2 separate regions of the Homo sapiens genome follow, and region 2 is linked to region 1. The links come from fine-mapping of genetic effects on gene expression. A gene starts in region 1. The other region holds a variant in brackets. All regions are shown on one strand. Distances are between the middles of the regions.

Region 1 (5,225 bases):
CAGGTGATCCCCGCCTCACCTTCCCAAAGTGCTGGGATTATAGGCGTGAGCCACCATGCCCATGCCCGGTCAATTAAGTAATTATTTAGGTTATTGTTTGTTCTTGACTAGAAAAGGACAGGGACCTCATCTGTCTATTCGTGTTGTGTTTCCAGAGCTGAGAGTTGTTCCTGGCACACACACACTGCTCCATTAATGTTTGAAGAACAAATAAATGAGAAAACGAGTATGACGGGAGAAGAGGAGCTGAGGGCCATGTGGTTGTTCACATCCTTGAAGGAGTGTTGGGAGAGGGCTCATGCTGACCTGGGTGACGCTGGACAGCAAATCCAGGGAGATCTGACAGGAAGGAATTGCCAGGAGGTAGTTTGGAGTCAAATGCACACAGTGAGGGCCAGGGGTCCTCGGGGTGGTGACAGTTTCCTCTCGCTGGAGATGCCTCAGGAGAGACCAGGCAGCTGGCACAGAGCAGGGATTTCCACATCATCTCATGCTGCTCTGGGCTGGAGGTAGATACTGGCTGCCTCTAGGCAAATGTGGCCAGCAAATGTGCTTTGTTTAGTCCCTCCCAGGGTTTAAGATATTTTTTCGAATTAGTTTCCAACATTTTAGAATCAGAAGTGTCGAAAGACAAAATGACAGCAAATTTAAAGATCCTAAGTAGCTTTTCTTCATGATTCTAGAATCGGGCAGCCCTCAGAACCAACAGGTTCAAAGGACTTTGGGGCTGCAACGTGGTTAGACAACATTTATGGACAGAAAGTGGAACTGAGGCGCAGAGACAGCTTAACTGGTTACAGGTTTATGTTCTAGCTTATTTGAATCAGCTAACCACCTGCCAATGACAGAAGCTCACTGGCTGTGATTGGCTGAGACTCAGCTGTTTGTTACAAAAGCATCCTCCTCAATTAGGGTGTCTTCTCTTTTATGTTAACTATGCCAGGCTGCAGCTCCTTATGTAAGGACTCAAGTAGGGAGGCATCCTCAGGCCTAAACATTTAACAGAAGGTGTTGCATGAAAACGCATGTTTGGGCTGGTTGCGGTGGCTCACGTCTGTAATTTAACAGGCTCCGGGGTTGGGGACCCCTGCTCTAGCTCATAGAACTCCCTCCGACTCACCCCTTCCCGCGCCCCACGTCCCTGTGAACAGTCTGTCCCTGCAGGTACCCAGTTTCTGTTCTCCGGTCTTGTTGCTATGAAGAACCCTTTCCCTCTGCTTATGTATGAAAAGAACTTAAGAAATAATCTTTTGTTATTCCTTGAAGAGTTGCGGTTTAGGATTCAGAGCACTAATGAGATTTTGTGTAACTATTCCTTGGTGTCCTGGCTTAGGGTGTGCTTTGCTTGGTATCTCCCCCTTTTAACCCCCCTCTTCCTAATATCCACCTCACCCTCCAGATTCAGCCCAAACTCTGCATTCTGTCCCCTACCTTCTCCACTCCCCCAAGGCGAGTTAGGCACCCTTCCTCACTGTAGCACCCTGAGCTAAGGCTACCTAACTTACTGTTGGTAATTTTCTTTGCCTGTAATTTCACTGAGGGCAGGAACTGTTCCTTATTCATGTCCACACTTTTCTGCCAATAGTAAGCCTGTTTACAGTTTAGTGAATGAATGAGGATACATTGCAAAGGAAGCTTGGAAGTCCTTTATTTAACTCATGCAGACCGACTTTAAACCCACAGCACACGGGAACACGGGACATTTTGAGTAATGCTCCAAAGAGAATCTCAGAAATAGCCAAACCTTGGTTCTCATCCATTCTTGATTACAGAAATGGGGAACACTGAGCCAAGATGCGAAATCAGGAAAGTGCTTTTGGTCCACTGGTCTAGCTGCAGTCTAGAAGCGGCTTGCGGGAGAAGCTACCAGAAAGAGCCCGGAAGGTTCCTGTCATCATTCGGGGTGGCAGAAGTTTGTCCTGGCTTTTAACCTTTTTTGGGGTCACAAGACCCTTAGGGAATGAATATACAGCTATAGCTCCTCTCCCTAGAAAAATGCAGACACCCATAGTGTTTTCCAGACAACTGCAGGGCATTCGTGGACTCCCGAGGCCCATCCTTACGCCCCGACACTCGGGAAGTAGGAGTGAATGAATGCGCTGTTTACCTGCCCTAGGGACAAGAGGTAAACTAAGTCATTCATTCACTCATTCCTTCTGTCTTGAGCCCCAGCTCAGGGCTAGCCTGGGTGCTCCCGGCCGTGGGGCTCCGCCCCGGCACGGGGCCACGAAGGAGGGCCACCCCCCTCGCCGCGCGCCCGCGGCCCCGCTTCCACCGCGCCGCGCCCTCTTCCGCCGTGAGAGTCGCTTCCGCGCACGTGATCTCGGCGTCGCGCTCTGATGAGTTTTCCGCGGCCGGCCGCTGCTCAGCCGCTGTCGCTCCGGCTCCGGCTGCGGCTGCCGCTGCCGAGGCTGCTGCGCGGCGCCTGGCGGGCTCGGGACGCGCGGGCCGGGGCCGAGGGCTCTGGGCGCCGAGATGGAGCCGTGAGTCCCCGGCCGAGCGGGCGGGCTGGCTGGCTCTCCGGACACTCCGGCCGAAAGTTGGGGATCCCTGGCTCCCGGCGCCGTGCCGCAGGGTCCCTGGCGCCCACGTGGAACTGGGGGCAGGGAAAAGGGCGCTGAAGGGGGCTTCGCGGGCGGGTCAGGCGGAGGTGTTTGCGCGGGGCGAGAGTAGACCGGGGCCGGGGCTCCCTCCTGCCTGCCCGCCCGGCCGCGGTTAGAGACCGGGATGCGGTCGGGGTTCCGGGACGGGGCTGCGAGCCACAGCGCTCACCGGGGGGCCGAGAGAACCGGGGGCGCTGCGGCCCTTCCCCGGCGTAGGGTGGCCGCCCGCACGGAGTCCCGCCGCCTCCCGGGCAGCCTCTCCTGCCGGAAAGGCCCCGCCCCGTCGTCCCCTCGGTATCGAGAGCGCCCCGCGCTGCCCTGCGGTCTCGCCCAGCGCCGGGTGCGAGGCTCTCAGAGGCGATTGGTGACGTGGGCACCGGGGAGCCTGCCGCAACAGCCCCTTTGGACTCGGGGTGTCGAGTTATATGAGTTTTATGCGTTTTACGATCTGCTGACTTTGGGCTTTTTTTTTTTTCTTTACCTCTTTGAAGTCCAGGGTTTTTAATGAGGAAAAACCTGTTTGGGGTCTCGTGGACGCCATCCCTAAAGCTTGCTTTTGACCCAGCAGTCGCCTAGGTGTCCCCCTGGGCGCATCTGGAAAAGAAGGAGACGGAGTTAACCAGAGGGTTAGCGCCGCGTGGAGTTGCAGAAAGTCCGGGAGAAGGAGTGGCCCATATGTGCAGCCGCGCCTGGCGCAGGAGGCTTCCAGGGCCGGCTCCCTGCACTGAAGGCAGCCTCCGAGGGGCCTGGGCGCGCTTCTTGGCTTATATGCGGTTTTTGAGGCAGAAGGGTTTTGCTTTGGATCTTTGCTGATTTCTCTGGCTGTGGACGTGGTCAGAGAAGTGACACCCAGGCCTGTTGCCTCAGCGCAAGTGCCTGTGACAGAGAGATCTGTTTTTCCTTCTGCTTCCTTAGAAGTTTCTGACTTTGGTATGTTGCTTTAGCACCTCTTGGGAAACTGGAATGGCATCAAATATCAGACCTATGTGGATGTTTTAAAGATTTTAAAAGCCAAGTGGAGGTAGGTTAGCAGTATTGCCTCTGCACAACTCCAGAGGGCAAGATTCTTGTGCGGCCTATGTAAATAATACTGCTTGGAACGGTGTCTTGTGGAACTGTGGCCTTGTAGCAGAGTGACAGCTGCGTGTTACAGGAGTTCTCTCACGCGCTGCCCCTTGGAGCTGCATAGGTGGGCTGGGTGTGCTTTTTCAGTAGGAGAGAGGCCGGGGACGTGAGGTGGTGAGGGCCTTGGCCAGGACAGGGATCTGGGTCTTCTGCCAGGGTCCTGCGCTGTTACAGGACAGGGAACTAGACCAAAGAAAGCAGTTGACCAAGGAAAGGTCCCGAGGAGGACAAGCAAAACGCAGCTTGAATTTTGTGCGAGTTTGAGGCCTCCCCCTGCAGCTGTAAGCGCTTTGTGCCTCAGGCTCTGTGGAGCACTAAGAGGGTTAGGGAAGACGGAGGGGGATGAGGGTATCTGGAAATCAGCCCACCACCATCGGCCAGCATTCCAGGCACCTACCTGGAAACTGAGAAGAGTTTGGTAGCAGATAAAATCCTCCTAAAAAACAAGCCTGAAAATCCGAAGTGCGTCCTGGACTTAGGTGACTGAGTGTTCTCTGTCCTTGTCTGGTGTGCCTGAGAGCCCAGAGGTGAGAAAGGTGAGAAAGAAGAGAAGTCCAGGGAAAGAATGGGAGAGAACAGAGCCGCTTGGAGGAGCAGGGGCAGCTCCACCACTCTGCTTACGGTGTGTAGGGGACCGTCCCCCTGCAGACCCTGGCCTTATGACCTCTGACTCTCATTCGGCCCAGCCTGCTCTTTAAAAATGTAGGAGAGATTGCCATCAAAACTCATCAGCAAAAAAGGTTAGCAGTTCTTAACAGTTTTACCTTGAACTCTCCTGCAGTCTCCATTCCTTCTCTGATGATGCTAGGGACGGGAGAGGTGCTAGGAGTCTGAGGACGGTGTGGGGCGTCTCATTTGCTAACCTGACTTGTTTGAGCTACAGGGCTGCACGGAGTTGAGACTCTCATGCTCACATGTTGCTTTGGTCTTACTTTAGCATTTCTCTGCAAATTTAAATAAGGCTGTTTTTGTGTGTGTGTGTGTGTGTGTGTGTGTGTCTTGCTTGGCACGTGAAGCCATTTTTTAGTGTGTATTTTATGTGTCTTTTTCATCCTGGGGGCATTTCAATGTAGAAGTGTATTAATTAGAACCACCTTCGGCTAGCAGCAAAGCATGGCACAGACAAATTAAGTATCCTGGAGCCCTGCTGTGGTTTCAGGGTCCTGGGCCTCCTGAGTCTCCCAGTGCTTTTGAGGGCACACCAGGCTTGGGTCAGTATCCTATTCCTGCAATCATTTAATTATTTAGGACTTTGTCTCATGGAATGGTTTTTTGTTCTGACCAAAATGATCTCTAGAAATAGTAAAAGATAACTGTGAGTGTTCACCATGTAGCAAGTGCCGTCGTAAGCACCTTACATCCATTGTTTCGTGGAATCCTCACTATCACCTTTCGTGAGGAAGTTTCTCTTTTCCCCATTTTGCAGATGAGGAAACTGAGGTATGAAAAAGACAAGTGAGTTTTTCAAGGCTTTAGAGCTGAGCCCAAACCCTGGGC
Region 2 (5,225 bases), 110 kb after region 1:
GCCTGGCCAACATAGTGAAACCCTGTCTCTACTAAAAATACAAAAATTAGCCGGGCGGTGGCAGGTGCCTGTAATCCCAGCTACTCAGGAGGTTGAGACAGGAGAATCCCTTGAACCTGGGAGGTGGAGTTTGCAGTGAGCTGAGATCGCGCCACTGCACTCCAGCCTGGGCAATAGAGCAAGCCTCTGTCTCAAACCAACAACAAAAAAACGAAAACAAAAACTATAATACAGTGAGAAAAGTGAAATTTTATTTGATGATGAAAGATCTTTCAGTGATTTGAGACATCCTTTTGAATATTAACAAAGTGACATAGACATAGTGATAACAAAGTTGTATTTCAAAGGGTACTAATTCTAGGGTAGATCCTGAAAGTTGAATTTTAAAGTGCATTTCTGATGTCATCTTGTTTCTTGGGATTGGCTCATCTTTTCTACAAGTAGGTATCACAGACATTCATAAAAGAGCGTGCTAGTAAATGACACCTTTTTGGTCCAATACAGTATCTCTTTGCACTATGGCTATTTGTCTAGGGGAGTGGGCTGACCACTTATTAAAAAAAAAATGTAGCAAAAGCATAGCATCAGTTGATTTTATTGGGCAACTTATACCCATAGCAGGATGTATGCTGTGTGTTTCTAGATTATTCCATGCCTTGCAGATTAGAATGGATGCTCCTTTCAGTGTCTTTTCCTCTCCTTTCACTATTCTTGCTTACTATCATAACAGCCTTTGGGCAGGAAGGGATGGACCTAGCAGGGAGCTTCTCTGCCCCAGGCATGTTATTTATACTTTGCCATTTAGTCCTCACAGCAACCCTGGGAGGTAAGGTCATATCACCTGTTTCACGGTTGAAAAAACCCTTGAGACTCGACTCTGAGATGTTGAGTGAGAGCCCAGTTCACACAGCCATGTTGGAGTCCAGGGATGTCGAATGCCAAAGCCCCTTCCCTTGCCATGGGGGTTACTGCCTGGGCTCTTGCCCTATAGCCTGGGGTCAGGTGTTCCATCTAATACTATCTTCTTTAACTCTGAGGGCTGCAGGAAACTGAAAACACACCTGCAGCATCTCCGGTGGAAAGGAGCGAAGAACACGGACTGGGAGCACAAAGAGAAGTGCTGTGCGCGCTGCCAGCAGGTGCTGGGGTTCCTGCTGCACCGGGGCGCCGTGTGCCGGGGCTGCAGCCACCGCGTGTGTGCCCAGTGCCGAGTGTTCCTGAGGGGGACCCATGCCTGGAAGTGCACGGTGTGCTTCGAGGACAGGTAAGCATGGCCGGTGGTTGGATCCCTCCCACTGATTCAGGTCTCGGAGGAGGCCTCTTTACAAACCGCTCATAAAGAGAGCACTCACTCCTCACCTTCAGCCAGTAAATGTGTACCGAGTGCCTGATAGGGAGCTACCTTTCTAGCCTTGGAAGTTATCTTCATCCAAAAATAAATTTTATGTAGCAACATTTTTTTCATTTACAGAAGTTTGGGCCAAGTGTGGTGGCTCATGACCGTAATCCTAGCATTTTGGGAGGCCAAGGTGGGTGGATTGCTGGAGCCCAGGAGTTTGAGTCCAGCCTGGGCAACGTAGTGAGACCCCATCTCTACAAAAAAATACAAAAATTAGCCAAGTGTGGTGGTGCATGCCTGTAGTCCCAGCTACTCAGGAGGCTGAGATGAGAGGATCATTTGAACCTGGGAGCTGTGATTGTACCACTGCACTCCAGCCTGGGCAACAGAGTGAGAACCTGTTTAAACAACAAAAGTTTGTTAAGTCGAAGGATGGGCTAACCCAGGAGTTCAGATTCATTTGGGTCTCTTAACTAAGTGCTGTCATTTTCTTAGCACTTAATTTATCTCCTTCAGTACCAGTGGAGTAAATTATAATCTAGGGAATATTGGAGTAATCATCTGAGGCTTTAAATACTGCGTTTTTGAAGCTGACCTGTCTTTAATACTCAG[C/G]TAAAGAAATGGACATGCTTCCCTTTAGTGACAGACTGAATCTACGTTTATAGTTATCAATTGGTGTTTAGGGGGTTTTAATACCAGTTTTAACATGGAATTGGTGTTTTTGCGTTCCCCATTCTGAAAACGATAAAGAGCCAACTTGGCTTAGACTCCTGCTGTTCAAAGCAAGAATGAACTGGCCATGAGCTCCGTGAAAACACTAGAGGGGTGACTCCGTCTGCTGGGGGAGACGGTGCACAAGGACATCACAGAACTTCGGAGAAGGGAAGGAATACTAGGCTGGTGTGAATGGGAGTCATCAGAGACCCTGAGATTTGAAAACAACTTCTAAATATTGCCACAGATGTGTGAGTGCCCCAGGGACAAAGACTGTGGGAGGCACTTACACAGTGTGGGCATTGTGGCTGGGGTTTCTTCCCCCTAAATCCGGAGGGCTGTGTTTAACGCACGCCCTGGCATTCATTTACTTAAGTGTCCTGTCCCTTTGCAAGGCTTACTGTATTTCAGTCATCTAGCCAGAGAGGTGAAGTGGTTCAACCTGATTTCTTTGCTCTTGAACTGCATTCCGTCCATTTCGCTCACAGCGTGCCAAGTCGCACGGACGGTGGCCGAATTCGCCTTCTCATCTCATGTTTCTTTGGTTTGCTGAAGCCATTGTCCTTCAGGCTTTTCCTTGCTTGAGAGCAAAAAATAATTACTGTGAGCTGCCCTGGCGGCATAGAGAGCAATTCCAAATCATCTCTAGAAAGGTCTCAGTATCTTCTTCCCCATTTCAACCAACCATATATATTTGAAGTCTAATAATAAACATTGCTGGGCAGGGTGTTACATTTCTCAGCATTTTTTCTTCTTCTACCAATGAACTGTAAACGAAAAATCAAAACAAGAGGACAAGGTCTGAGGCAATCTCCCAGGAAGCTGACAGTGTTGAAATCTCTGCCCTAGTGAGTCTTGTGTCCCAGGCACTGTAACTTTACCCTCTAAGTACATGAAATACGACTTCTAAAACCCCAGCTTCCTTATTTTGAAATGAGGTTGGTTTTCAAAATACTTAAGGTCATTGCATTACTATGAGTGCATTAACAGGAGAAGTCGGGAGGGGAGAGAGCCAAGTAGTTTGTGGTGATGTGCATTTTCTTTCCCCTCGCCTTGCTCCCTGTCCCCGCAGCCCTCTGTCCTCTCTCCAGCTTTATCCAGTCTGGGCTGTCCTCCTCCTCTTTAGGACCAAAAGAAAGATGAGACTTTGTAAAACTTTAGAATCTTTGACATTCATAACTGTCGCACATCTGGGGACCTAGAAAAGGTTTTTGACCCCGATCATTGTCTCCCCTGCTTCTTCCTTCGCTTCAGGCTCATTTCTCAAGAAAAAGTGGATCTGTGACAGGAACAAGATGAGGAAAATTGGTTTTTAAAATCAAGAAAGGGGAAGTGCTAGGGTAGCAATGACCAAAACCAACCAACCAACTCGCAGGTTGCTGCAGAACAAGAGGCCTGTGGCAGGTGTTGGCCCTGATCTTGTGTTGAGAGGTTCCAGAAGACATTTAAGATAAAGTTTCTGTCTTCAGGGAAGGTTTTCTCTTAGAGAACTGAGTGCCAAGTTGCTAAGGGCCCTGGGAGCTCAGAGAGGGAGAGATGAGGCAGGCTGAGTGGCTCAAGACGACTTCCAGAACATCCATGGTTGGAATAGTCTTTTAATGTTTTATTAAAAGCATAAAACAATCGTGTGGGGTAGCTACTACTTTCATCCTCATTTTACAGTTGAGAAAGTGGAGGATTAGAGACACAAGATGGTTTGTCCATGTCATATCAGTAAGAACAGAGTGAAGATGGCAACCCAGGTCCCCCCGGCCCCCAGGCCTCCTTCTGAATCTCCAGTCCTCTCCCGCCTGCTAGGAGCCTTGTCCTGGGAGGGCAGAGTCTTTTATTTATTTATTTATTTTGAGACAGAGTTTCACTCTTGTCACCCAGGCTGGAGTGCAGTGGTGTGATCTCGGCTCACTGCAACCTCTGCCTCCAGGTTCAAGCGATTCTCCTGCCTCAGCCTCCCAAGTAGCTGGGATTGCAGGCACCTGCTGCCACGCCTGGCTAATTTTTATATTTTTAGCAGAGACGGGGTTTCACCATGTTGGCCAGGCTGGCCTCGAATTCCTGACCTCAGGTGATCCACCTGCCTGGGCTTCCCAAAGGGCTGGGATTACAAGCATGAGCCACTGCGCCCGGCCGGCAGAGTCTTAAAAGCCACTTAGAAGAGCTTGCCTCCAAGACAGTAGGAGCTGGAGCCTGAGCATGTGCTCTTTGCCAAGCGAACACCATGCCGAAAGTCTGCCTGGTTTTGCAGGGCAAGATCAGGAGAGCGGAAGGTAAAGGTAAAAGAGCAATCTGAGAGTTGCTGCAGTGAATGAGAGGCACCGAGGGAGGAGGCTGGTGGCAATAGTGATGGAGAATGGGAGAGACAGGAAAAGGGGAGGATGGACCTTGGTTACAGGGGATAAAAGAGAAAGGTGAAAAGTGATTCTGAGGACTGGCCAGACAGGTCGCTTGGCATGCTGAACTGGATCACGGGGCATCCGAGAACCGAAGGAACAGAAAGAGCCCAGTAATCAAAGGCACACTGGAAAGGACTTAGAAGAACCAAGGAAAGTTGTTTTCAGTAGTGAAGGGGCTCCTGTTGTCCTCAGCAGGGGCCGATCAGAAGAGGGTGACTTGGGAGGAGAAACAAAGAAGTTAAAAGCAGAAACATCCTTGTTTTCCACTGATGTTTCTTCCCGGGGAATGTATTGACACTTTCTGCAGTGAAATGGCAGATGGTAACAATTATGTTGAAATATCAAGGAGGAGACTATGCTTTGTATGTTTGTTTTAGCTTCATCAAAAAAATAAGATTAACCTTGATGATTTATGTTTGCATTAATTTTTTCTATTAAAACGAATATACTGTGTCATAACTAATTCCACATCTAAAAGAAACCTGGTCTTCTCCCTTAAGATTGCTGAGGAATTACTCTTGTTCAGACTTGTTTCCTTCAAACTGTGATCTTCTTGTCATGCTTTGTAATTGCTGTGACAACAAATCAATGATTCTTCAGCTTCAGGTATCTGTGGACACACTGCCTGTTTCGTTAGGAACATTTTGCTGCCAGTCAGGTGCTTTAGAACCAAATTGGTTTGTACAGAGAATTCTGTAAGTTGCAAGTATTTTAACAATGATAAAGGTGCAACGGAGCTTATATACCATCATTAGAACAGAAGGTTTCAAGTTGCAGCAGGT

The links. PIP is the estimated chance that this variant, and not a neighbour inherited with it, causes the effect. A credible set is the group of variants that fine-mapping cannot tell apart.
Region 2: its variant is the best candidate, but not a certain one, in a credible set for the expression of TMEM181 in nucleus accumbens (GTEx, PIP 0.68).

The regions. Positions count from the first base shown.
Region 1 is chr6:158,557,750-158,562,974 of GRCh38, forward strand. It overlaps TMEM181 (transmembrane protein 181), which reads left to right and starts at 2,342. Exons shown (of 17, transcript NM_001376852.1): 1 at 2,342-2,483. The coding sequence starts at 2,476. RefSeq lists a silencer at 2,033-2,952 and enhancers at 3,372-3,873, 3,874-4,373.
Region 2 is chr6:158,664,350-158,669,574 of GRCh38, forward strand. It overlaps SYTL3 (synaptotagmin like 3), which reads left to right. Exons shown (of 18, transcript NM_001242394.2): 5 at 1,046-1,264. Among named protein-coding and RNA genes, the nearest start is that of SYTL3, 17 kb to the left of the region's middle. The variant C/G (reference allele first, on the strand shown) is at 1,952.